6 separate regions of the Homo sapiens genome follow, and regions 1, 2, 3, 5 and 6 are each linked to region 4. Evidence: fine-mapped expression QTL. A gene starts in region 4. Each other region holds a variant in brackets. All regions are shown on one strand. Distances are between the middles of the regions.

Region 1 (4,087 bases), 67 kb after region 4:
AAACCCCTACTGTCAAAAGGTTAAGCAGTCTTTTTTTTTTTTTTTTAGACAGGGCCTTGCTCTGTCACCCAGGCTGGAATGCAGTGGTGCAACCACAGCTCATAGCAGCCTTGACCTCCCAGGCTTAAGTGATCCTCCTACCTCAGCCTCCCAAGTCGCTGGGACCACAGGCATGGGCCACCACACATGGCTATTTATTTATTTATGTATTTTAGGGATGGGGTCTTGCTATATTGCCCAGGCTGGTCTCAAACTTCGAAAGTGCTGGGATTATAGGTGTGAGCCACAGCACCCAACCAGATTCTTTTTGATAATAGGGTGAGGGGGAATCCAATTTCTAGCTTTTTTTTTTTTTTTCCTGCAAACAATCTTTAGTGATCACAGTTTTCTAGCTATATCATTCCTCCAGGAGTGAAACAAAACTGGCTGCCAAGCAACTCCTTTATGGACTCACAAAGGCCTCGACCAGCATTGGTTATTTGTTGTTTGTTTTGGGGTTTTTGTTTTTGTTTTTGTTTTTTTGAGACAGTCACGCTCTGTTGCCCAGGCTGGAGTGCAGTAGCGCGATCTTGGCTCACTGCAACCTCTACCTCCTGGGTTCAAGCGATTCTCCTGCCTCAGACTCCCAAGTAGCTGGGATTACAGGTGTACACCACCATGCTCAGCTAATTTTTGTATTTTTAATAGAGACAGGGTTTCATCATGTTGGCCAGGTTGGTCTCAAACTCCTGACCTCAGGTGATCCACCTGTCTTGGCCTCCCAAAGTGCTGGGATTACAGGCATGAGCCAACGTGCTCAGCTGAATCAGCACTGTTGCCTTTCTCTGCCCCCTCCTGTCTTTCTCGTCTCCTGGTCTAGGAGGCCATCGGTGCCTACAGTTTCATCATCTTTGCCGGAATCTGCCTCCTCACTGCGATTTACATCTACGTGGTTATTCCGGAGACCAAGGGCAAAACATTTGTGGAGATAAACCGCATTTTTGCCAAGAGAAACAGGGTGAAGCTTCCAGAGGAGAAAGAAGAAACCATTGATGCTGGGCCTCCCACAGCCTCTCCTGCCAAGGAAACTTCCTTTTAGTGGCCCTGCATGAAGGACGGGAGCCCATATTCAAGGCTTCCTTCTATGACAATGGGCCTCCCGGCCCCAGGCTCTGGGGAGGATAATAGCACGGAGGCTTTTGTCGTTGCCCCCATTTAACTTAATTATGGATATTATTAAATACCCACAACAATGCATATTTAGCTGAGAAGTTCCAAGGCTAGCCATTGAGGAATGACCTGGAGGAAGGGGCCGGCACGTGAATTTTGATTGGTTAAGACTCGATTTTCCGATTCTACATTGGCACCAAAATTTAAATGATGTATAGATGCACTTTTTTAAAGTAAAACTTTTCAAGTTCCACAATTGCTATGGATACCCGAGCTGCCGTCATTGCATCAATTAAGGAGTCCAAGGCTCTGAATGCCATTGCCTTCCTGGCGACGTGGCTTCCTTTCTCCACCCCGTGGCTGCAGGTTGCACCGTGAATCCCAGCCTGCGTGCCCAGCTCTGTCCTGTCGATCACAGGGTGAAGGGGGCCAGCCCCTCGACACCTGTGGGTATTTCTCGTCAGGTGGGATGAGAGACTGAAAAAAGAAATAAGACACAGAGACAAAGTATAGAGAAAGAACAGTGGGCCCAGGGGACCGGCGCTCAGCATACGGAGGACCCTCACCAGTACTGGTCTCTGAGTTCCCTCAGTATTTATTGATCACTATCTCTACTGTCTTGGTGAGGGGGATGTGGCAGGACTATAGAGTAATGGTGGGGAGAGGGTCAGCAGGAAAACATGTGAGCAAAGGCTCTGTGTCATAAATAAGTTTAAGGAAAGGTGCTGTGCCTTGATGTGCACATAGGCCAGAGTTATGTTTGACTTTACACAAACATCTCAGTGTAGTAAAGAGCAGTATTGCCGCCAGCATGTCTCACCTCCAGTCATAAGGCAGTTTTCTCCTATCTCAGTAAACAGAACGTACGCTCGGGTTTTATACCGAGACATTCCGTTCCCAGGGACGAGCAGGAGACAGATGCCTTCCTCTTACCTCAATTGCAAAGAGGCCTTCCTCTTTCACTAATCCTCCTCGGCACAGACCCTTTACGGGTGTCGGGCTGGGGGACGGTCAGGTCTTTCCCCTCCCACGAGGCCATATCTCAGGCCATCTCCATGGGGGGAAGCCTTAGACAATACCCAGGCTTTCTTGGGCAGAGGTCCCTGTGGCCTTCCGCAGTGCATTGTGTCCCTGGGTACTCGACAATGGAGAA[T/G]GGCGATGACTTTTACCAAGCACACTGCCTGCAAACACATTTTTAACAAGGCGCATCCTGCACAGCCCTAAGCCATTAAACCTTGAGTCAACACAGCACATGTTTCTGCGAGCACAGGGTTGGGGCTAGGGTTACAGATTAACAGCATCTCAAGGCAGAAGAATTTTTCTTAGTACAGAACAAAATGGAGTTTCTTCTGTCTACTTCTTTCTACATAGACACAGTAGCAGTCTGATCTCTCATTCTTCCCCCCACAACAGGGGCCACAGGCAAGGGAGTAAGACCATTCCCAGTCCACTCTCTCTCCTCCTCTCCCTCCAATGGGGAAGTTGATATCTTCCTTGAAAACAAGGTGCAGTGCCGGGCGTGGTGACTCACACCTGTAAACCCAGCACTTTGGGAGGCTGAAGCGAGTAGATCACCTGAGCTCAGGAGTTCGAGACCAGCCTGGGCAACACAATGAAACCCCGTCTCTACTGAAAATACAAAAATTGGCCAGTGCGGTCATGTGCGCCTATAGTCCCAGCTGCTTGGGAGGCTGAGGCAGGAGAATTGCTTGAGCCCGAGAGGCAGAGGTTGCAATGAGCCATAATGCCACTGCATTCCAGCCTGGGTGACAGAGTGAGACCCTGTCTAAAAAAAAAAAAAAAAAAAAATAGCACCTGCATTCAGGCCTGACCATGTCACTCCCTGCTGGAATCCTAGGCTGATTCTATCACTCGAGATGATAAGGCTGGAACCGTATTGTCATAACGTGGGTTTCCTGCCACCACCCCAAGTACTTCCAATCCTCTGTGCCTTTCTCCCTGGCGTGCTTTCATGTGCCTTCCCTCCAAACGATCACAGCCCTACCCAGCCTTCAAAACCCAGCTCGAATGAGCCTGAAGAACCTCTCCTGTCCTGTCCAGCGGGAGGTCCTCTCACCTCTGGGCCCTGGAATCACCGTGCATCTTTTTCCATTGGCATGCTTGTCACTTTGCATATTAATTATAGGTTTACCTGTTGCCCTGTAGTGTCCAAACTTAGTGGCTTAAAACAATGACAGCTATTGTGACTCCTGGTTCCTGTGGGTCAGGAATTCAGATAGGACTCGGTGGGAATGGCTTCTCTCTGCCCTTTGACATCTGGGGCTTCAGCTGGAAGACTCGGAGGCCCAGGAGCAGAGCTGTCTAGAGGCTTCTTCCGCTTCTGATCGCTGGTGCTGGAGGGCAGTGAAACTGACACTCAGCCTGGGCTCCTCACACCTGGGGCACTGGATTCCTGGGGGTGATGGGGCAGGGGGAGACAGAGTCACACACACACACACACACACACACACACACACACACACCAGGAAAGTCACATGCTGTTTGCTAGATGCTAGTCAGTCACTCCGGCCCACAATAGTGGCAGGGGGGATGGTTGTGTTGAGAATTAGACCACCCCTTTTATTTTATTTTTATTTATTTATTTATTTTGAGACAGAGTCTTGCTCTGTTGCCCAGGCTGGAGTGCAGTGGCACAATCTCGGCTCACTGCAACCTCTGCCTCCCAGATTCAAGCGATTCAGCTGCCTCAGCCTCCCAAATAGCTGGGATTACAGGTGCGCACCACCACACCCAGCTAATTTTTGTATTTTTAGTAGAGATGGGGTTTTACCATGTTGGCCAGGCTGGTTTTGAACTCCCAACCTCAGGTGATCCATCTGTCTCGGCCTCCCAAAGTGCTGGGATTACAGGCATGAGCCACCGTGCCCAGCCTAGACCACCCCTTTTAGAGACAGGGTCTCGCTCTGTTGTCCAGGCT
Region 2 (4,087 bases), 35 kb after region 4:
GAGGCTGAAATGGGAGGATCGCTTGAGCCTGGGAGGTCAAGGCTGCCCTGAGTCATGATTGCATCACTGCACACCAGCCTGCATGACAGAATGAGACCTTGTCTCAAATAAATAAATACATGTAAGATTGAGGAAGCTTCCAAATGTCCTCACATATGTAATGAAATCTTGAGGAGTCTTAAAATCTTGAGACTGTGGTGGGGGAGGAAGGGAAAAGGAACAGGGTCTTGATATGGTTTGGCTGTGTCCCCACCCAAATCTCATCTTGAATTGTAGCTCCCATAATTCCCATGTGTTCTGGGAGGGACCCTGTGGGAGATAATTGAATCATGGGGGCAATTTCCCCCATACTGTTCTCATGGTAGTGAATCAGCCTCATGAGATCTGATGGTTCTGTAAGGGGTAAAACCTTTTGCTTGGTTCTCATTCTCTCTTGCCTGCCACCAGGTAAGACGTGCCTTTTGCTTTCTGGCATGATTGTGAGGCCTCCCCAGCCATGTGGAATGGCGAGTCCATTAAATCTCTTTTTCTTTGCAATTTACCCAGTCTCTGATACATCTTTATCAGCAGCATGAAAATGGTCTAACACAGGTCTCTCCCCAAAAATATAGAGAGCTGGAGGTTTTTCTTAGAGATATGAATAAAGGGTGTGAGTGTGAGTGTATGTGCAAAAATATGGATAAAACCTTGAAAGTGCTGAATGGCCTGTAGCAAGAAGTGATGTCTTCTCATAGATGGGTGGCAGAGGCTGGTGGCCGGGAGAGAGAGCAGTGGGACTTGGGAGCACTTTTTGTGGGTATGTAATGGAGATTCCACCAGCAACAAGCTAAACCACTCACAAGCGGGCCCAGAGGAAGTAAACAGAACACTGTGGTTGAACCATCCTTGGCCTTCTGCAGCAAGGATCTGCAGCCTGGAAGGGGCACAGAAACAACCAAAGATGAAGGCTCTCAGAGCTGAGGAGAGGCCAGGTCAGAATATCAGAAGTCAAGAAACTGCAGCACCTCTAACACAGGGGAGGCTATGAAGTTCATGGTTCTGGATGTCTGCTCCCTGGGTTCAAACCTTGGTCCTGCCACATTAGTTGTGCAACTTGGAAAGTTACTTGGCTTTTTTGTATCTCAGTCTTCTCTTCTGTTAAATGGCACTAATAGTAAATGTCTCACATGTCCATTGTGAGAATTAAATGACTTTATATGTTTTTGGTGTTTGGATCAGTGACATGTATTTAGTTTTCTTAGGTACTTTTCAGTGCTTGGGAATAAGCATTAATCTTGAGGACAAATAAACTCACAAATAAGATACAGTGAGAGGCCACTCTGCATGTATACTAGGATTGAGCAATCTAGTAAATGGATGGCAGATGGTGGGGGCCATTTCACAGTTGCAGTGGGAGGTTACAGATAAGCAGGGAGAGAGCGCGAATGATCCATGTGGTAGTAGATCACTCTCTACTCCAAGTAGACTTGGAGACCTTGGTATGAACTCACATGCAGTTTAATATAGATTCAGGCTACATATACAAATATAGATAAGTATCTACACATGGGTTAGTAAAATACAGCAGGAAGAGAGATGTGGGAGTATAGAAGGGAGGTAAGGAATTTGGAAAAACAAGTGTGATTTCTCCAGTTGGAGAAGATGTGATAGGAAAGTGAGGGATGGGCATTCCAGGCAACAGACAGCACAGAGAGGTGTGGAGGCATTGAGGGATGCTACAAGTTATTTGGTCTGAAAGTGAAGCCAGAGAGGTGGCAGGGGCTGCGGGGTGGGGGCAGCTATAGTGGATCCTGTGGGTCCCAGGAGCCAAGTTGAACTTCATTG[T/A]CAAGACAACCAGGGGTTATGTGATGACCGAGTTTCCAGGAGCACCTGGCATGAATGTGAAGGGGTGGGGCTTGGATAGGGAGACCAGCTGGTAAATAATGAGGACCCAGCAAAGCCAGCAGTAGTCAGGGCCGAATGTGAGGGAGCATTCAGAGAGTCAGTAGGATTTGGGATCCACTCAGCAGTGAGCAGTCGGGCGTCCCTGCCAGGTTTCTAATATGGGCCAATGGGGAATGGCTGGAAGAGCTGGGTGGCAGGTTTTAGGAGAAGGTCATATACTTTTTGGACACATTGAGATGGAGGAGATCATGGGACACACAGAAGATATCCAGAAGGAAGGTGGCATGTGGCTCTGGAACTCAGGGGAGCAGGGACATAAGTTTGGGGAAACCATATATCTGTAAGCACCTACTGTGTGCCAGGCATGGCTCCAGGCCCTGGGGCCAGGGTTCTGAGTGAGAGTTGCAGTGAAGAAAAGTAGATTAGCCCAAGGGGTGACAGGTGGAGAAGCAGCTGAACAGAGAGGGGAGTGGGGCTGGCTGGGGGGCAGCAGATGCAAATGTCTTGTGGGAGAGGGTTGGCCATGGTTCAGGGAACGATGGGAGGCAAGTGATGCTGCGGCAGAAAGGGGGTTGGGGAGGAGGAAGGGGGCACTAGGTGCCTGGGGGCACTGTGCAGACACTCAGTTGGCCCCCAGGAGCATCAGAGATTCTATTCTGAATGTGTCGGAAGGCCACTGGCTCACTTGAGCCAGAGAGTATCCTGATCTGATTTGCAATTTAAGAAATCATTCCAGCTGCTCTGGAGAAGAGTCTGAAGGAGCCCACGAGACAGCAAGGAAATCAGATCCTTACAAAAGATTCGAGAATAGGTTAAAACCTCGCATTTGCATAAGATTGCCCCAGGTTTGCCAACTGAGAGGATGAAAGGTGAGAGGTGGGCTGGGTGTGCTGGCTCATGCCTGGAATCTCAGCACTTAGGGAGGTTGAGGTGGGAGGATTACTTAAGGCCATGAGTTCGAGACCAGCCTGGGCAACACAGTGAGAAACCCCCACCCCCCACCATGTCTACAAAAAAAGTAAAAATAAAAATAATTAACTGAATGTGGTGATGCACACCTGTAGTCCCAGCAACACGGGTGTCTGAGGCAGGAGGATCGCTTGTGCCTAGAAGTCATGATCACACCAGTGCACTTCAGCCTGGGCAACAGAGCAAGACCTTGTCTCTAATAAATAAATAAATAAATAAATAACTTTTTTTTTTAAGGTGGGAGATGGAGCACCATCCAACAAGGGGCACAGGAAAGCCAGCAGAGAGGACTGAGCTGCCAAGCTCTGCCATTTGCTGAGACTAGAAAAAGAGTTCCCCTTGGATTCAATGACTCAGTGACCTCAGGGAGTGCTGTCAGGGGTAGTGTGGGGGCAGAAGGTAGACTGCTAGGGTGAAGACTACAACTGAGGCAGAAAAGAAAGAATGGGAGCTCTAGTTATTGTTCACTCTTCCTTCCTCCCTTTGCTATTCCTGCTTGAGTGGGTGTTATGTCACTTACAGAACACGTACACATATATAACATAAAAAATAAGTAGACATAGGCCGGGCGTGGTGGCTCACGCCTGTAATCCCAGCACTTTGGGAGGCTGAGGTGGGTGGATCATAAGGTCAGGAGATCGAGACCATCCTGGCTAGCAAGGTGAAACCCCGTCTCTACTAAAAATACAAGAATTAGCTGGGCATGGTGGCGGCACCTGTAGTCCCAGCTACTCGGGAGGCTGAGGCAGGAGAATGGCACGAACCAGGGAGGTGGAGCTTGCAGTGAGCTGAGAGTGTGCCACTGCACTCCAGCCTGGGCAACAGAGTGAGACTCTGTCTCAAAAAAAAAATTTTTTTTAAATAAGTAGACATATATTAGAGGTTTGTAGGCAACATTTTCTTACTGATGGGGAGGCATGATTTTAAAAGTTTGGAGACCACTGGGAGCCAAGCTGCCTGCAAAGATCGGTGAAAGCTGAGGCGAAATGACGCTTTGGGAGAATTAGACAATGTCAGGGGATGGTGATGGCAGCAGCCACTCCAGACGGCTGCCGCTGCCATCACACCAGCTGCAGCAGGGAGGTGCAGCCCAGGCTGCACATTCCATGGAGCAAACAGGAGCTCCCCGGGTGCCACTGCAGCCACCCAAACTGCAGCTATAGACCCTAACCTTCTGCTCCATGGAGGAGGCAGGAGGCCCCCACCGACCCCACCTCCCAATGCAGCTGCAGCC
Region 3 (4,087 bases), 60 kb before region 4:
GCTCACACCTGTAATCCCAGCACTTTGGGAGGTTGAGGCGGGCAGATCACCTGAGGTCAGGAGTTCAAGACCAGCCTGGCCAATACAGTGAAACCCTGTCTCTACTAAAAATACAAAAATTAGCAGGTTGTGGTGGTGCACACCTGTAATCCCAGCTACTCAGGAGGCTGAGACAGGAAAATCGCTTGAACCCGGGAGGCAGAGGTTGCAGTGAGCCAAGATCACGCCACTGCACTCCAACCTGGGCAACAAGAGCGAGACTCAGTCTCAAAAAAAAAAAAAAAAAAAAATTAGTGGGGCATGGTGACATGCACCTGAAGTCCTAACTACTGGGGAGGCCAAGGTGGGAGAATTCTTAAGCCTAGGAATTTGAGACTGCAGTGAGCTGTGGTTGTACCTGCACTCCAGCCTCGGCGACAAGACCTTGTCTCAAAAAAAAGTTTTGGAAGAATGTAGAGAAATTGCGACCTTCATTGCTAGTGCAAATGTAAAATGATATGTACAGTCACTTTGGAAAACACCTTGGCAGTTCCTCACAAGGTGAAATATAAAGTTGCGTATGGCCCAGCAACTCCATTCCTAGGTATACACATAGGAGAATTGAAAACATACACCCACAAAAAAACTTGTATGCAAATTTTCATAGTGGTATTATTCTTAATAGTTAAAAAGTGTTAACAACCCAAATGTCCATCGGCTGATGAATAATAGCTAAGTAAAATGTGGTATATCCTGCCGAGCGCGGTAGCTCATGCCTGTAATCCTAGCACTTTGGGAGGCCAAGGCAGGCAGATTGCCTGAGCTCAGGAGTTCAAGACCAGCCTGGGCAACACGGTGAAACCCCACCTCTACTAAAATAGAAAAGAAATTAGCCGGGCGTGGCGGCGTGTGCCTGTAGTCCCAGCTACTCGGGAGGCTGAGGCAGGAGAACTGCTTGAAGCCGGGAGGCAGAGGTTGCAGTGAGCCGAGATCATGCCACGGCTCTCCAGCCTGGGCGACAGAGGGAGACTCCGTCTCTAGAAAAAAAAAAAAAAGGTGGTATATCCATATAATGGAATATTACGGGGCAGTAAAAGGAATGAAGCACTGCATATGCTACGATGAACCTTGGAAACGTGCTAAGTTAAAAAAGTCAGACATAAAGGCCACAGAGCATATGAGTCTATTTACAGGAAATGTGCAGAATAAGCAAATCCACGGTAGAAGAGTGGTTGCCAGGGCTGTCGGGGAGAACTGAGGGCTAACAGCTGAGGGATAAGGATTTCTTTTTGGGAGTAATGACAATGTTGTAGAATTACATAATAATGATGGTTGCACAAACTTGTGAACATACTACTGAATTGTTCGGTTAAGAGGGCCAATTTTATGGTATGTGAATTACATCTTAATTACAAAGTTTGAAATTTTTAAAGAAAAAGCCATGCCCTGCCTAGCATTTCATTTTTTAAAAATCACACCTAGTTAGCTATGGTTTTTAAAAAATAGCATGCTTATTTTAAGAAAAGGTGGAAACGCCGGCTTCCCCAAGTCACCACCAACTTGTGAACACGTCGGGATCACGGCTGAAGGAATGAGGATCATACCCGAGAGCTGTTTCTGTTGCTAGTGGAAAGAATGCCTCTGATCCTCACGCCCTTCCACTCACAACACACACAGAAG[C/G]TGGCTGAAAAGAGGGAAAGTAATATTAGCCCTAAAAATGCCAGCCCTTCCTCTCACAGGACTGGATGTCCCAGACACCTGGCAAGAGCAGGGGTGGGCCTGGAGGAGCGTGGAGGGACAGGTGCTGGGACCTGGGGGTGCCCTGAGGTAGGGCTTAGGGACCTAGGGGCTTAGGGGCGTGGTGTGAGGGCGTGGGCGGGGCTCAGGAGCCTCGGGCACCGGGTGGAGCTTGGAAGCCTCAGGGGCGTGGCGGGGGCGGGGCTCAGGGCCCGGGGCAACGGGACGAGGAAGGGCACCTGAGCCAGGGTCAGGGCCCGGAACACAGGGGTGTGGCGGGGTGCGTGGGCGGAGCGGGGCGCGTGGGTTAGGCTCTAGGCCCAGGTCTCTGGGCCCTGTGGACAGGGGATCGGGGCGCGTGGGCGGAGCTCTAAGTCCCAGTCTCAACGCGGGGGCACACGGGCGGGGGGGGGGCGTGTGGGCGGGAAGGGCATGTGGGCCGGGGGACGTGTGTCCGGGGCTCGGATTGTGGGCGGGGCTCAGGGCCTGGGACGGCGGGACGGGGCTGGGAGTGTAGGCGGGGCTTAAAGGCCGGGGTACCGGGGTGGGGCGCGGCGCGTGGGCGGGGCTCAGGGCCCGGGATATAGGGGCGGGGCGCAGGGCGTGGACGGGGTTCAGGGCCCGGGGCCCAGATGGGCGGGGGAGCGGCCGGACGCGGGCGGGGCGGGCGCCTGGACGCGAGCCTAGGGCGCCTCGGTGCCCAGACGGCGGCGGCGTGGCCGCACGCGCGGCCCGGCTTCTGTCCTCGCGGCGCTCCGGCTCCTGGCCCCCCACGCCATGCAGCCGTCCCCGCCGCCCACCGAGCTGGTGCCGTCGGAGCGCGCCGTGGTGCTGCTGTCGTGCGCACTCTCCGCGCTCGGCTCGGGCCTGCTGGTGGCCACGCACGCCCTGTGGCCCGACCTGCGCAGCCGGGCACGGCGCCTGCTGCTCTTCCTGTCGCTGGCCGACCTGCTCTCGGCCGCCTCCTACTTCTACGGAGTGCTGCAGAACTTCGCGGGCCCGTCGTGGGACTGCGTGCTGCAGGGCGCGCTGTCCACCTTCGCCAACACCAGCTCCTTCTTCTGGACCGTGGCCATTGCGCTCTACTTGTACCTCAGCATCGTCCGCGCCGCGCGCGGGCCTCGCACAGATCGCCTGCTTTGGGCCTTCCATGTCGTCAGGTGGGTGGCGGTGGCGCTGCTTTTCCAGGAGCCCCCGACACAGGCCGACCCCTCCCGGTCTTGCCCTCCCAGAGGCCGCGTCTAGGTTGGACACCCCCTACCCACAGCAAGCAGTGCCTGCTGGCGCCCCCGAGGCTGTCCTGGGCCAGCGGGAGGAGGCCAGCCTTGCCCGAGATTCGCTCCCTCCCGAAGGAGCCCCGCTGTGCCTGCCCCAGGGCACAGCCCCTTGGGGTAGTGGGGACAGAGTTCGCCCCCAGAGCCGGGCCCTGTTTCCTTGGACGGGGCTGGGGAGGACACTCTGAGCCCCTTGTGACCTGCTTCACTGTGTCCTGGCTGTCTCTGCTGCCCATGGGGAAACAGGCTGGGAGACGAGTTAGGTAACTGTCCCGGGCTGGAGAGCCGGCAACTGCCAGTCCCACGCCACCACCCCACCCCAAGCCACAGTGAGCTTGGTGCACTCCGCCACTCCCGAGCTGCCGTGTCTCTGCTGTACAGTTTACAAAGGACTGTGCTTTTTATTCTGTCTTTGGTCGTTTCTAGCCTCAGGCCCCAGCCCCTTGTATTTCTGTTCTAGATGATCTTGACTTTCCAGAGTTCAGCAATTCTGAGATTGAGGGCAGGGGCGGAGGGCTGGTCTGGGAGTCTCGGAGTCCTCCTGGAGTCTCTCTGAGAGTGGGGAAAAGCCAAGACCTTACTTTGCGATTCAAGCGTCTTTCAAGTAAGCCTCGCTGAAGAGGGTCGGCCCTTCCCTGGGGAATGTCAGGTTTTGAAAATCTCATGGCGTCCTGTGCTGTGCTGAACTGAGGGCAGGAATCCTAGGGGCTGTTTTCCTTTTCTCCTTCTCCCAGATCAGAGCATCAGATACTGCCCTAATTATAGGTCCTTTCTATTAAAAACTTAAGTGCATTCCAAGGACTGCGAGCACAGTCAGCACTTTGGCAGAGACAGGTCACCTGGGTGTCACACGGCAAGGCTACAGGGCTGTAAGAGTCGCTTGACCTTCAGTTGTGCACTGAGGCCGGCTGGTCCTTGAGAAACTAAGTGACCTGCTTCTCAGCTGTACAAGTAAAAAATCTTTGCAACACATCATCCAAACCGAGGCTCAGATGCTGCAGATGGAATAGGGCCCTGCCTTGCCTTGCCTTCCCGGCAGCATCCCATCTGACCCTGTCTGGGTCCCGTGATGGCTGGCTGGGTGTGGGCCCCGAGTA
Region 4 (4,087 bases):
AGCAGGTGTCATGCACTTGACATGACTGATGACTACAAACTTTGGACGATTATTTTTGGGGGGAGGATGGGGGACGGAGATGAGTCTCGCTCTGTCGCCCAGGCTGGAGTGCAGTGGTGTGATCTAGGTGCGCTGCAACCTCCGCCTCCCGGGTTCCAGCTATTCTCCTGCCTCAGCCTCCCAAGTAGCTGGGATTACAGGCGTCTGCCACCATGCCTGGCTAATTTTTGTATTTTCGGTAAAGACAGGGTTTCACCATGTTGGTCAGACTGGTCTCGAACTCCTGACCTCAGGTGATCCACCCACCTTGGCTTCCCCAGGTGCTGGGATTACAGGCGTGAGCCACCGCGCCCGGCCGGATTCTTCTTTGTGTTGGATTGCACACCTGTACCCGTCTCCTCACTCCCCCATCGTTGATTTCCTCTCCCCACCCTACCCCTGCAATTAAAGTGCATTTTCTTTGGAAACTTTTTCTAGATCTTTGAAATAATTGGAAACCTCTGGTCTTGCTATGCGTTAGTCACAAGTCAGTGTGCTAGGACAGTGATACGCAGAAGAAAAAGACAGGCAGTAGCTGGTGAAAGGGAATGCTGAGTTCTCCCTTGTGAATAGGGACCCCCCCGACCCCCCAACACACACACACACACAGACGGCCACGCTGCTAGGCTTCTCACAGTCTCCCACCCTGAGCAACCCTGGGGATTTGCTGCTAATGCAAGGAACAGTGCCTAACACAGGCTCCCAGTCTCTGCTTGTTTAAAGATGCATGAGATTCAGAATCAATCACTAAAGTAACTGGATTTACGCCACAGCAAATAGAACTGGGAGTATGTTCTGTAAAGATGAAAACCTGTGGGACTTGTGAGACTTTGGATTTTGGCCACTTGCGCTGGTGTGCCCTGTGGCAGCTGAATGAGTGCCAAACATGGGGGGCTGACAGTGGCCTGGCCTTGAGATGGCCGGACCCGGACCAGCAGGTGTGACTCATTTTCCCTGCCCTGCCTGGAAAGGGGTTCGAGGTATTTACCACCTTCCCAGTAGTGATGAATACACAGAAAGTAACATCCCTAGGTCATTCTGAGCTCCTTAAAATGGAAAATAAGAGGCCGGACACGATGGCTCACGCCTGTAATCCCAGCACTTTGGGAGGCCAAGGAGGGTGGATCACTTGAGGTCAGGAGTTCGAGACCAGCCTGGCCAACATGGCAAAACCCCGTGTCTACTAAAAATATAAAAATTAGCCGAGCGTGGTAGTGCACGCCTGTAATCCCAGCTACTCAGGAGGTGGAAGCAGGAGAATCGCTTGAACTCGGGAGGCGGAGGTTGTAGTGAGCTGAGATCATGCCACTGCACTCCAGCCTGGGACAAGAGCGAAACTCCGTCTCAAAAAAAAAAAAAAAAAAAAAAAAAAACAGAAAATGAGAAACTTTCCCCAAACAGTATTACACGGTGACTTGGGCAAAACTGACTCTCCACCAAGAGACACTTGACTGTAGTTTTCCTGGCAGGGAGAGCATCTTTGAGGTCTCTAGTGGCCCAATCTGTTGCCCTCAGATTACCTGGTGTCATGTAGGGTGGAGGACAGCTGTTGTTTGCCATGCGTTCCTGACAGAAATAACCCTTCCAGTCATTCACCATGAGCCTGACTGGTAGAGACTTTAGCAATGGGGAAATACCGTAGACTGTTCCATCAGGACAATGCTGGGCCTGCAGTCCCCAGGGGGCACCCACTTACTTAGCCAAACCCCAGACGTTTCATTTAAAAGCAGAAGTGAAAGGAAGACCAGGTTCCTGAAAGGGTTATTCTGACTTAATCTGGCTATAAAAATGCTATTGGCTGTTATTTGGCATGGCCAAAGTGCACCCAGAATGTCTTCTCTCTCCATTCAGTGCACGCGTTACTTTGGCTAAAAGGAGGTGAGCGGCACTCTGCCCTTCCAGAGCAAGCATGGAGCAACAGGATCAGAGCATGAAGGAAGGGGTGAGTGTGTTGCTCAGGGAAAGGGGCCAAGAGCAGGCTTGGCTGCCAGGGCCTGTGCAGCCTTCCTGGAGAGTCGCTGGGGGGCTCCTGGTGTTGCAGAGGGAACTCTGTGTTGGGAGGGATTATGGTGGGGAGAGGGGGAAAGTCTTGTCCAGCAGGTGGTCTTTTATAGGGAGGAGAGAGGTTTAGAGACAAGTGCTCTGTGGAAATCATTCTACTGGAACAGCCTTTAACAGCAGGATCTGTAACTGAATGGAAGAGACCCAAAGGATTCATTTGTCCCAACTTGAACCAAACATGTTAGCTGCAAAATCCTTCTATGGTTGGTGAGATGTTTCGCTCTGCTTTCGTTTTGCTTTTGGCTTCAGGGCAGTTAATTTTTTCAGCAAGTAACATAGCTGAGCTGCATGAAAGCAAGATAAACTCAGAAAAGGCGTTGCTTGATTTGAATTTAGTTCAGATCTGTCACGTAGGTTTCCTGCCTTTTAGATCCTGAGGCTCCCTTGTTTTAGAGAGGAAAGATTTTCATGGACTCCTGCAACGTAATTGCAGTTTACTTTCTAGATTCCCTTGATTGAGGAAAATGCATAATGTCAGAAAAGTAACACTGACTTATTAACACTTTATAAGAATTTGCATTTATTCATCACAATAGCATCTGCTTATATTTGGAGTGGAGGAAGGATAGTGCACATTTTTGCAAAACAGCATTTGTTCAGGCATGGATGTGAGACCCTCACCATAGGCAGACTGGAAACATGCTCTGTAGCACATAGATTAAGAGTGGGTCTTGGGAGGCTGAGGTGGGTGGATCACCTGAGGTCAGCAGTTCGAGACCAGCCTGGCCAACATGGTGAAACCCCATCTCTACTAAAAATACAAAAATTAGCCAGGCGTGGTGGCAGGTGCCTGTAATCCCAGCTACTCAGGAGGCTGAGGCAGGAGAATCACTTGAACCTGGGAAACAGAGGCTGCAATGAGCTGAGATCACGCCATTGCACTCCAGCCTGGTCAACAAGAGCGAAACTTCATCTCAAAAAAAAAAAAAAAAAAAGAGTGGGCCTGGGAAGTAGAAGCCCCCAGGATTCATTCCTGCTCCATCCTATTCTAGCTGTGGGACTTGGGTAAGTTCTTTAACTCTTCAGTGCCTCAGTTTTCTCATTTGTAAAATGGGAGTAATAACCATACCGCCTCATAGGGTGCTGGAGCAATTAAATGAGATAATGCATGTAAAGTACCTGGCACAGAGTGAGTTCCCCGTAAATGTTACTACTTTTCTTTCTCTCTCTCTCGCTTTTTTTTTTTTTTTTTTTTGACACAGAGTCTTGCTCTGTCACCCAGGCTGAAGTACAGTGGTGCGATCAAGGTTCACTGCAACCTCCACCTTCTGGGCTCAAGCGATCCTCCCACCTCAGCCTCCCAAGTAGCTGGGATTACAGGCATGCACCACCACACCCGGCTAATTTTTGTATTTTTAGTAGAGATGGGGTTTCACCATGTTGGCCAGGCTGGTCTAGAACTCCTGACCTCAGGTGATCCGCCCGCCTCGGCCTCCCAAAGTGCTGGGGTTACAGGTGTGAGCCACCGCGCCCGGCCATCGTAAATGTTACTACTTTTCAATCATTCTTTAGGCTGGTTTCTCCACCTCCGCGTGATTTCCATTTGGCACTGGCTAACGCTTCGTTGTAGGGGCTGTCTTGTGTGTTATAAGATGTTTAGCCGCGTCCCTGGCTCTACCTTCTAGACGCAGTAGCTCCCTCCCCCAGGAGTGACAACCGATGTCCCCGAGAGGGCAGAATCCACTCCCAGCCCTCAACTGAGAGGCACTGCTTTGGAGTCTACTCAGCCCCTTCGCTTGGGTCATCTTGTTTGTCTTACAACTAAGAAAGTGTTAGACAAATCAAGTGTCATCACCTCCATTTTATAGAAAAGAAACGGAGGTGATGAGGACTTAGGTGTTTGGGGTCCAGGGAGGTCCTCCGCTGTCCAGAGAAAGGCACAACTGCCACGTTCCCCACGTCCACCAAGTCCAGCTGCAGAAAGGAATGGAAACACCCCCACGTGGCAGGCCCTGAAACTGAGTAACACATTGCGAAAGGAAATGAT
Region 5 (4,087 bases), 260 kb before region 4:
CGTTTCCTTTCCGTTGGAATAAAAAAATGACTGTGCTCTTCCCCGGGCCGCTCTGGGGTCAGCCTACACTGGATGAGGCTGTTCACAGCAGGCTCACACCGCAGGCGCTTCAGGAAGCTGACAAGGAGGGCGGGCATGGTGGCTCACGCTTGTAATCCCAGCACTTTGGGAGGCCGAGGTGGGCGGATCACCTGAGGTCAAGAGTTCGAGACCAGCCTGCCCAACATGGCGAAACCCCGTCTCTACTAAAAATACAAAAATTAGCCAGGCATAGTGGCACGCGCCTGTAGTCCCACCTACTTGGGAAGCTGAGGCAGAAGAATCGCCTGAACCTGGGAGGCGGAGGTTGCAGTGAGCCGAGATCACACCATTGCACTCCAGCCTGGGCAACAGAGTGAGACTCTGCCTTAAAAAAAAAAAAAAAAAAAAGAAGCTGACAAGAAGACAGAACTGACAGGAAGTAGAAGTGGACTTGAAAAAGGAGATAAATGCATATAAGACCAGGCCCTAAATGGCTAAGAATTAGGGACAGGCTGCTGTCCAGGAAGTGACAGATGGCTGTGCTGGTCCCTCTGGGAGCAGACACTGAACAGGGCAGACCAAGGTTCTCACCGAAGAAGGTGGGTTCCATGTTTCTGGCCATTTTCCCATGGAGTGTGCACCTGGGAGGCTGATTCTTGGACCCTGGGGGTTTGCTGGGTGCCTGACGCAGCCCACGAGGGCAGAAGCTCAGTGAGCACTTGCTGGTGGAGAGCACTGAAACCAAGTCTCAGCCACGGAGCCCAGGATGGGGCCCAGGCCAGAACCACCCACAGCCGATGCCCTCTCCTGCTGCCACCACACTTCCTGTGGTCTCCGTCACCCTCTACGCACTCAGGCTGCAGAAGCAGCAAGCTGACCTCAGGCCTAGACCCTGCAGGGAAAATGCTCTTCCAAGATCATGACCTCCTAATCGATAAATTGAACGGGCCCAAAAAACAAGCATCCTCTCTCTACCTCTCAACTGTATCTGAAAATACCACCATGCCCTTGACCTGAAACGCTCCTAGTTTTGTGACAGTATCTGACTCACTCTCTAAGGTTCTGTCTCAGCTCCTCCGCCTGTTCTTCCTGCTCCTTACACACAGATGTTTTTGAGGGTCTCTCCCTCCACAGGACCTCCCTCCGTGGGATCCTTTGCTCTCATGGCTCCAGGGAGTGTCTGCCTGTGAACCTGACGTGTCCACCAAATATCATCTCCCCAGCAGTGACCCTGCTCCCACTCATACATCCCTTGTAGACTCAAATGGCCCCCTCCTGGCCTCTACAATGCTGCCAATTTCTATCATCAACCTCTAGTTCACCCAGATTCAAACCCCTCATCTCCCTCAATTCCTCCTCTTCTTGGCTTCCCACATTAGCGCCAAACATTGTAAATTGCTGCCCCCATAGTTGCTGAATCCCACCTTCACTCTCACTGTTTAAGTCATCACTTGCAAGGCCACTGCAAGAGTCTCCAAGTCCCTTAGATCTCAGCCCACTCAAACAAATCTTCCTAAAACGCTCTCATTGAGATTTTTTTTTTTTTTTGGTAGAGGTGGGGTCTCACTATGTTGCCCAGGCTATTCTCAAACTTCTGGCCTCAAGCAATCCTCCCACCTTGGCCTCCCAAAGTGCTGGGATTTATAGGCATCAGCCACCTCGTCTGGCCAAGGCTTTTTTAAATTTTGAAAATCTGTAATTCAAACACGTACAAAAGAGTCACATATTTTCAACACTCAAACTGTCAACAGTTTGGCACATTTGTTTTTGGTCCTTTTATTACACAATAGTCAAATAGCCAGAGGACTGGAACAGACAATGCAAAGAAAAAGTAAATGCAAACAGTAAGTAAACTTGTAGGAAAAGAAGCTCAACCTCCCATGGAGACAAAAGGACATAAAAGAAAAGCAGTAATGAGATCGCACGTTGCACCCTCCAGATTGCTACAGAGTCAATACAGAGATGGTGCCTCCTGTCTACACACAGGAAGCGGAGAGCAAGTACCAACGTGGCTGGTGGGATCTGAATCCGGCAGCTTCGGGGAAATGAATGGCAACTGATCCAACAATTCCACCCCTGGTGCGTGAGCCCATAAGAATGAGTGCCGGCTAGGCACGGTGACTCACGCCTGTAATCCCAGCAGTTTGGGAGGCTAAGGCAGTGGATCAACTGAGGTCAGGAGTTCAAGACCAGCCTGGTCAACATGATGAAACCCCGTTTCTACTAAAAATACAAAAAATTAGTCGGGCATGGTGGCGCATGCCTGTAATCCCAGCTACCCAGGAGGCAGAGGCAGGAGAATCGCTTGAACCCAGGAGGCAGAGGTTACAGTGAGCCAAGATCGTACCACTGTACTCCAGCCTGGGCAACAAGAGTGAAACTCCACCTCAAAAAAAAAAAAAAAAAAAAAAAAAA[C/A]AAGAGCACCAGTAGCAGAAGGAGATCCATAACGGGTATTTATGACAGAGGTGCGGCCACTTCCTGCCACTCCAAATCGAGTGCACAGTCATTGACAAAGGTCACTTAGGCAGACCACTCTGATATGTTTGCACCATGAACCGTTGTTACACAGCAATTAAAAAGACGAGGTAGAACCACATCAGTGAGCCTGGAGACACTTCCACAAGCATTCAGCGGGGAGAGCACGACAGAATATGAAAGGAGAGCCCATTCTAATAAAATAATGGCATCCCCAAAGATGCAGACATACAGGTCAGTGCAGGCAGGGAGGTATGGAACTACTCTGGGTATATCATCCTTCAATAAAAGATTTAGGATTTTTTTTTAAGTATGTAAAAAAAAAAGACGCAGAAAATTACAAGTGTTGGCAAGGATGTGGAGAAACCGGAACCCTTGGGTATCACTGATGGAAACGCAAAATGGCACAGCCGCTGGACACAGTAGGGTGGTTCCTCAAACTCAAAATGATCGTACGATCCGGTAATGTACTCAACGCTACTGAACTGCACGTCTTAAATGGTTAAGATGGTAAATTTTAGGTTTTTGTATGTTTTACCACGATTAAAAAAAAAAAAGTTCAGAAGAACATGCTCCAGTCTAACATCAGTTTGGGAAGGGAGAGAAAAAGGAGGGGAGGAAAGGAAGAGGACAGGCAAACCCAAAATACTCCCCCAAACGTGTCGGGTGAAGTTAGGGATACGTGTGTCCAGATCACAAGGTCCAGCTGGCAGGATGTTACTGTGGTTCCCTTGGGGTGGTAGGAGTAAGGAGACTGGCAAATCTTTATTATTATTATTATTATTGTTATTATTTTGAGACAGAATTTAGCTCCTGTCGCCCAGGCTGGAGCGCAGTGACACAATCTTGGCTCACTGCAACCTCCGCCTCCCGGGTTCAAGCGATTCTCCTGCCTCAGCCTCCTGAGTAGTAGAGATGCACCACCACGCCCGACTAATTTTGTATTTTGTATTTTTAGTAGAGACGGGGTTTCACCGTGTTGCCCAGGCTGGTCTCAAACTCCTGACCTCAGGTGATCCGCCCGCCTCAGTCTCCCAAAGTGCTGGGATTACAGGCGTGAGCCACCGTGCCCAGCCTGGTACATCTTTATGTGTACATATCAGGTGTCATTCAGATTCTTCTCGATGAGCAAGCACCTAGCAATTATTTACGCCACTGATCTTTGACAAACTACAGTGAGAAGAGATGCCTTGTGTCCTCAGAATGGAGGTAAGAGACCCATGCAGATGGTCAGGTTTCCCTTTTGCTCTTTGCAAAAATGTGCAGTCACCTGCTCCTGGGCCACTCTGAACCCGCTGTCCTGTCATCCACAGCAATTTTCTCCCTGGACTCTAGGAATCAGTCCCAGAAAAGATTCCAAAGGCCTCATAGTATCCAAGTTTTGAGAAGAAATGTCTGCAGAGTCACGTTACCCACAGAACGCTCTCTTCTACCTCCACACCCAAGCCTACCATCCCCACGGCCCCACCGCCATGTGTCCGATGCCGAGATCTGGGAAGTCTCCTGGACTCCAGCACTAACTTCTTTCTTTCTTTTCTCTTTTTTTTTTTTTTTTTTGTTGTTGTTTTTGAAATGAGGTCTCACTCTGTCA
Region 6 (4,087 bases), 50 kb after region 4:
CGCGCCAGTAATCCCAGCACTTTGGGAGGCTGAGGTGAGCCAATCACTTCAGGCTAAGAGTTCGAGACCAGCCAGGCCAACATGGTGAAACTCCATCTCTACTAAAAATACAAAAATTAGCTGGGCATGGTGGCGCATGCCTGTAATCCCAGCTACTTGGGAAGCTGAGGCAAGAGAATTGCTTGAACCCGGGAGGCGGAGTGTATTAGTCCATTTTCACGCTGCTGATAAAGACATACCCGAGACTAGGCAATTTACAAAAGAAAGAGGTTTAATGGACTCACAGTTCCACGTGGCTGGGAAAGCCTCACAATCATGGCGGAAGGCAAAGGAGGGGCAAGTTACATCTTCCATGAATGGCAGCAGGCAAAGAGAGAGCTTGTGCAGAAATACTCTTCCTTATAAAACCATCAGACCTGGTGAGACTTATTCACTATCACGAGAACAGCACTGGGAAGACCTGCCACCAGGTCCCTCCCACACATGTGGGAATTTAAGATGAGATTTGGGTGAGGACACAGCCAAACCATATCACGGAGGTTTCAGTGAGCCAAGATCCCACCATTGCACTCTAGCCTGGGCGACAGAGCAAGACTCCATCTCAAAAAAAAAAAAAAGAGAGAATATCAGGATGCACCAGCCAGCAACCCCACAGCTCGGGAGCTCTCTGCCCTCTTTCTGGTCCACTGCCCATTCTTCTCCTGTGCAAAACCCAAGCCAAAGGCGGGGGGGTGGGGGGGGGCACAGGAGCCATTGCTGCAAGTTGGCAGGGGACCTAGAGCACAGAGTCAAGCAGATGAGTGGATCATGAAGGCAGCAGGACGCACCTGGCATAGCGCTGTTTTTCAGGCACTCCCTCTCCTTCTCAGGCTTGTGGTTTTTCAGCCTTGGAAGGGATCTTAGAAATCATGTAGTCCCATTCTGCACCCCACTGATTGTAAGAATTCCCTGTTCAACGTTCCTGACAGTCATCGTGTCTAGTCTAGAAACCACCAGCGACAGCTTGAATACCACCAGTGATGGGAAGCTCTCTACCTCCTGGGACAGCCCATTCTTTGTTCCTGCCCTCCCCTTTGCAGGCAGCTCCGATCGTTAGAATGCTCCCCTCCCCAGCTTCTACCCCCACTGACCCCAAGTCTTCCTTCCTGGGACGTCTGCCCATTCGCCCCTTCTTCCCATCTGTCTTAATCAGTTCAGGCTGCTACAACCACAGACTTAAACAACAGACATTTATCTTCTCACAGTTCTGCAGGATAGAAATTCAAGATCAAGGTACCAGCAGATCTGTTTCCTGGTGAGGGCCTTCTTTCTGGCTTGCAGACAGCTTTCTTCTGGCTGTGTCTTTTTTCTTTTTCTTTTTCTTTTTTTTGAGTTGGAGTCTTGCTCTGTGGCTCTGGATGGAGTGCAGTGGCACGATCTCGGCTCACTGCAACCTCTGCCTCCCGGATTCAAGTGATTCTCCTGCCTCAGCCTCCCGAGTAGCTGAGATTACAGGCATGTGCCACCACGCCTGGCTGACTTTTGTTTCTTTAGTAGAGATGGGATTTCACCATGTTAGCCAGGCTGGTCTCGAACTCCAGACCTCAAGTGATCCGCCCACCTCAGCCTCCCAAAGTGCTGGGTTTATAGGCTTGATCCACCATGCCCAGCCTGGCTGTGTCTTCACGGGGCAGAAAAAGAGAGTGGTTTCTTGTATGTCTCTTCCTATCCCATCGTGAGGGCCCCACATGACCTATTCACCTCCCAGAGGTCCCTCCTGCTGATCCCATCACACTGGGGTTAAGGCCTTCAACATAGGAATTTGGGGGACACCATTCAGTCCACGGCCCCCTGCTTCAGCTCTTTCTCGGGCACATTCCCCGCGCCTCTGTAGTGACTGCCCGCAGAATAGGAGCTGGTGTTGGGAGGGCTTCCGCGGCCTCCACGCACCCCTGCCCTCTGGGCTCACTGTCTTTGCAGAAAGGGGACCCTGCTGATCAACAACATCTTTGCCATCATCCCCGCCATCCTGATGGGAGTCAGCAAAGTGGCCAAGGCTTTTGAGCTGATCGTCTTTTCCCGAGTGGTGCTGGGAGTCTGTGCAGGTACCTGGGGCCCAGGCTCCGGCTCAGCCTTGGGGGAAGGGTCTGTTTGGCCAAGGCTGGAAGCAGGAGCAGATGAGGTGTCTGCCTGGCTCTGCCTCTTTTCATTTCAAGAC[G/A]TCCTCCCATCTGCATCCCCAGGCCCTTGCAAGCCTCATGCTTGTTTTTCTTAATTAATTAATTAGTTAATCTTTTTTTAGAGACAGAGCCTCACTGTGTTGCCCAGGCTGATCTCAAACTCCTGGGCTCAAGTGATCCTCCTGTCTCGGCCTCCCAAAGTCCTGGGATTACAGGTATGAGCCACTGTACCTGGCCAAGCCTCACGCTTACTAGCCCCTTCCCTTTATTTATGGATCTTTAGAAACACTTTCACCTTGAAGTACAAATAACCAATAAGGTTTTACAAGGTATCGTCCCAGGAAGATGGACAATTTAAACTCAGTAGTTTCTTAACTACAGTAATTTCTTCTATGAATAAAAGTTAGACAAGCAATCTGTGCTTTAGAAAAATCAGAAAATAGACCAAAGCAAAAGTTTTATCGTTAAGTCCCAGGGACACACGGAGGCCTAGGCTCCTCCCCTGTAACAAGCGGCCCAGCCCGGTGGCTAGAAAGGAAAAGGTCTCCTCATCACATCCTGGTGACTCCCCCGTGGGGGCTGAGGATTCTGGAGGGATTTTGGTGTAAGTCCAAACTAAACAGTCGAGGTTGGCCGAGCTCCATCTCCACGGAGGGGCTGACAGCATGGAGAAGCCCCGGGATTAGGAAACGGAATTGAATTGCATCTCAGATTCTGCGTTTGCGGTTTGCCTGCCCTGATTTCTGCTGTGCCCAAACCAGGCATCTCCTACAGCGCCCTTCCCATGTACCTGGGAGAACTGGCCCCCAAGAACCTGAGAGGCATGGTGGGAACAATGACCGAGGTTTTCGTCATCGTTGGAGTCTTCCTAGCACAGATCTTCAGCCTCCAGGCCATCTTGGGCAACCCGGCAGGTAACCGGCAGCCGCAGAGGTCACGCTAGGTCCAGTCTCTCGTTCGGCTGTGCCAGGTGTTACTGACGGATCGAGTCAGATGAGACCCGAGAGATGATTTTAGGGTCAGGTGTTGGGCAGTGTGGTGGGCAAAGGGATGGGTGACGTGGTCGGGGCTGTTTTGGTGAGTGATGGCGACAAATCGTGCTTAGGAATGGGAATCGGGCTCTGAGGCAGGTAGGGGTTCTGCTATAAAGGGAAGGAGAGAAGTTGGGGAAGTGAGGTCGAGAGAAGAGGTTTCTTTCAAGCCATGAAAAGTGTCAGCATAATTTGGCTGCCATAGGAATGGTCCAGTACAGAGGGAAGTCAATGCAGGGCAAGCAGGTTCACAGCCACCGTCTCTGTCACTGGGTGGCTGTTTTCTTCTGGCGGCCTCTATCTTCCCAGTGAATTAGGAGGCAAGGCCATTGCCTGAGAGCGAGTGGGGGTCGTGGTGGAGATTTAGGAGAGAGGAGTGTGGCCCTCTGAAGGTCTGCTGAAAAATCACTGACACGAAGCCGATTGATTAATAGAAAAGGCATGCAAACATATTTAACCAGATTCGCAGAGCCTTCAGAGTGAAGAGCCAGAGATAGAGGGGAAATTGTCCGTTTTAGTCCAGGCTCAACAGAGTACGGACAGCCGAGTAGAAATAGCATTGGACAAAAAGGGTCTGATCCGACGTAAATGGACTGAGTGGGGAGACCCCGCGAGGCCTGTCTGTGTAGGTCCTTCTTGGCCTCTGTACAGCCTTCCTTCTGGGTGTGGGGCAGGACCCTCTGCAGAATAGGGGGCCTTTTATGACCTACAGCCAACAGCATTGGTCAGAGATTTTCCTTCTGGCTAGTTTTGTTGTTGTTGTTGTTGTTTTGTTGTTGTTGTTTTGAGGCAGGGTCTCACCCTGTCACCCAGGCTGGAGTGCAATGGCGCGATCTCAGCTCACTGCAACTTCCGCTTCCCGGGTTCAAGCAGTTCTCCTGCCTCAGCCTCCTGAGTAGC

Direction of the effects. Positions count from the first base shown, and alleles are read on the strand shown. Sizes are in standard deviations (SD) of each study's normalised expression. Not every link is listed here.
For the expression in prostate of the gene that starts at base 1,850 in region 4, allele G in region 1 goes with a lower level than allele T (moderate effect, 0.60 SD a copy in GTEx).

What was found.
Region 1: its variant is fine-mapped to the expression of SLC2A5 in prostate (GTEx, PIP above 0.99).
Region 2: its variant is fine-mapped to the expression of SLC2A5 in whole blood (TOPMed, PIP above 0.99).
Region 3: its variant is fine-mapped to the expression of SLC2A5 in whole blood (TOPMed, PIP 0.92).
Region 5: its variant is fine-mapped to the expression of SLC2A5 in whole blood (INTERVAL, PIP above 0.99).
Region 6: its variant is fine-mapped to the expression of SLC2A5 in blood mononuclear cells (TOPMed, PIP 0.93).

The regions. Positions count from the first base shown.
Region 1 is chr1:9,000,291-9,004,377 of GRCh38, reverse strand. It overlaps SLC2A7 (solute carrier family 2 member 7), which reads left to right. Exons shown (of 12, transcript NM_207420.3): 12 at 860-1,405. The coding sequence ends at 1,078. Among named protein-coding and RNA genes, the nearest start is that of SLC2A7, 24 kb to the left of the region's middle. RefSeq lists an enhancer at 1-97. The variant T/G (reference allele first, on the strand shown) is at 2,303.
Region 2 is chr1:9,032,210-9,036,296 of GRCh38, reverse strand. SLC2A5 (solute carrier family 2 member 5) reads left to right here. Exons shown (of 12, transcript NM_003039.3): 12 at 1-1,191. Among named protein-coding and RNA genes, the nearest start is that of SLC2A7, 7.8 kb to the right of the region's middle. The variant T/A (reference allele first, on the strand shown) is at 1,825.
Region 3 is chr1:9,127,434-9,131,520 of GRCh38, reverse strand. It overlaps GPR157 (G protein-coupled receptor 157), which reads left to right and starts at 2,419. Exons shown (of 4, transcript NM_024980.5): 1 at 2,419-2,876. The coding sequence starts at 2,494. RefSeq lists enhancers at 542-631, 922-1,041, 1,062-1,131 and silencers at 1,833-2,152, 2,213-2,562. The variant C/G (reference allele first, on the strand shown) is at 1,660.
Region 4 is chr1:9,067,398-9,071,484 of GRCh38, reverse strand. It overlaps SLC2A5 (solute carrier family 2 member 5), which reads left to right and starts at 1,850. Exons shown (of 12, transcript NM_003039.3): 1 at 1,850-1,981. The coding sequence starts at 1,949.
Region 5 is chr1:9,329,671-9,333,757 of GRCh38, reverse strand. All of the region lies in intron 1 of SPSB1 (splA/ryanodine receptor domain and SOCS box containing 1), which reads right to left. Among named protein-coding and RNA genes, the nearest start is that of SPSB1, 39 kb to the right of the region's middle. The variant C/A (reference allele first, on the strand shown) is at 2,437.
Region 6 is chr1:9,017,206-9,021,292 of GRCh38, reverse strand. It overlaps SLC2A7 (solute carrier family 2 member 7), which reads left to right. Exons shown (of 12, transcript NM_207420.3): 4 at 1,960-2,084; 5 at 2,918-3,070. Among named protein-coding and RNA genes, the nearest start is that of SLC2A7, 7.2 kb to the left of the region's middle. The variant G/A (reference allele first, on the strand shown) is at 2,198.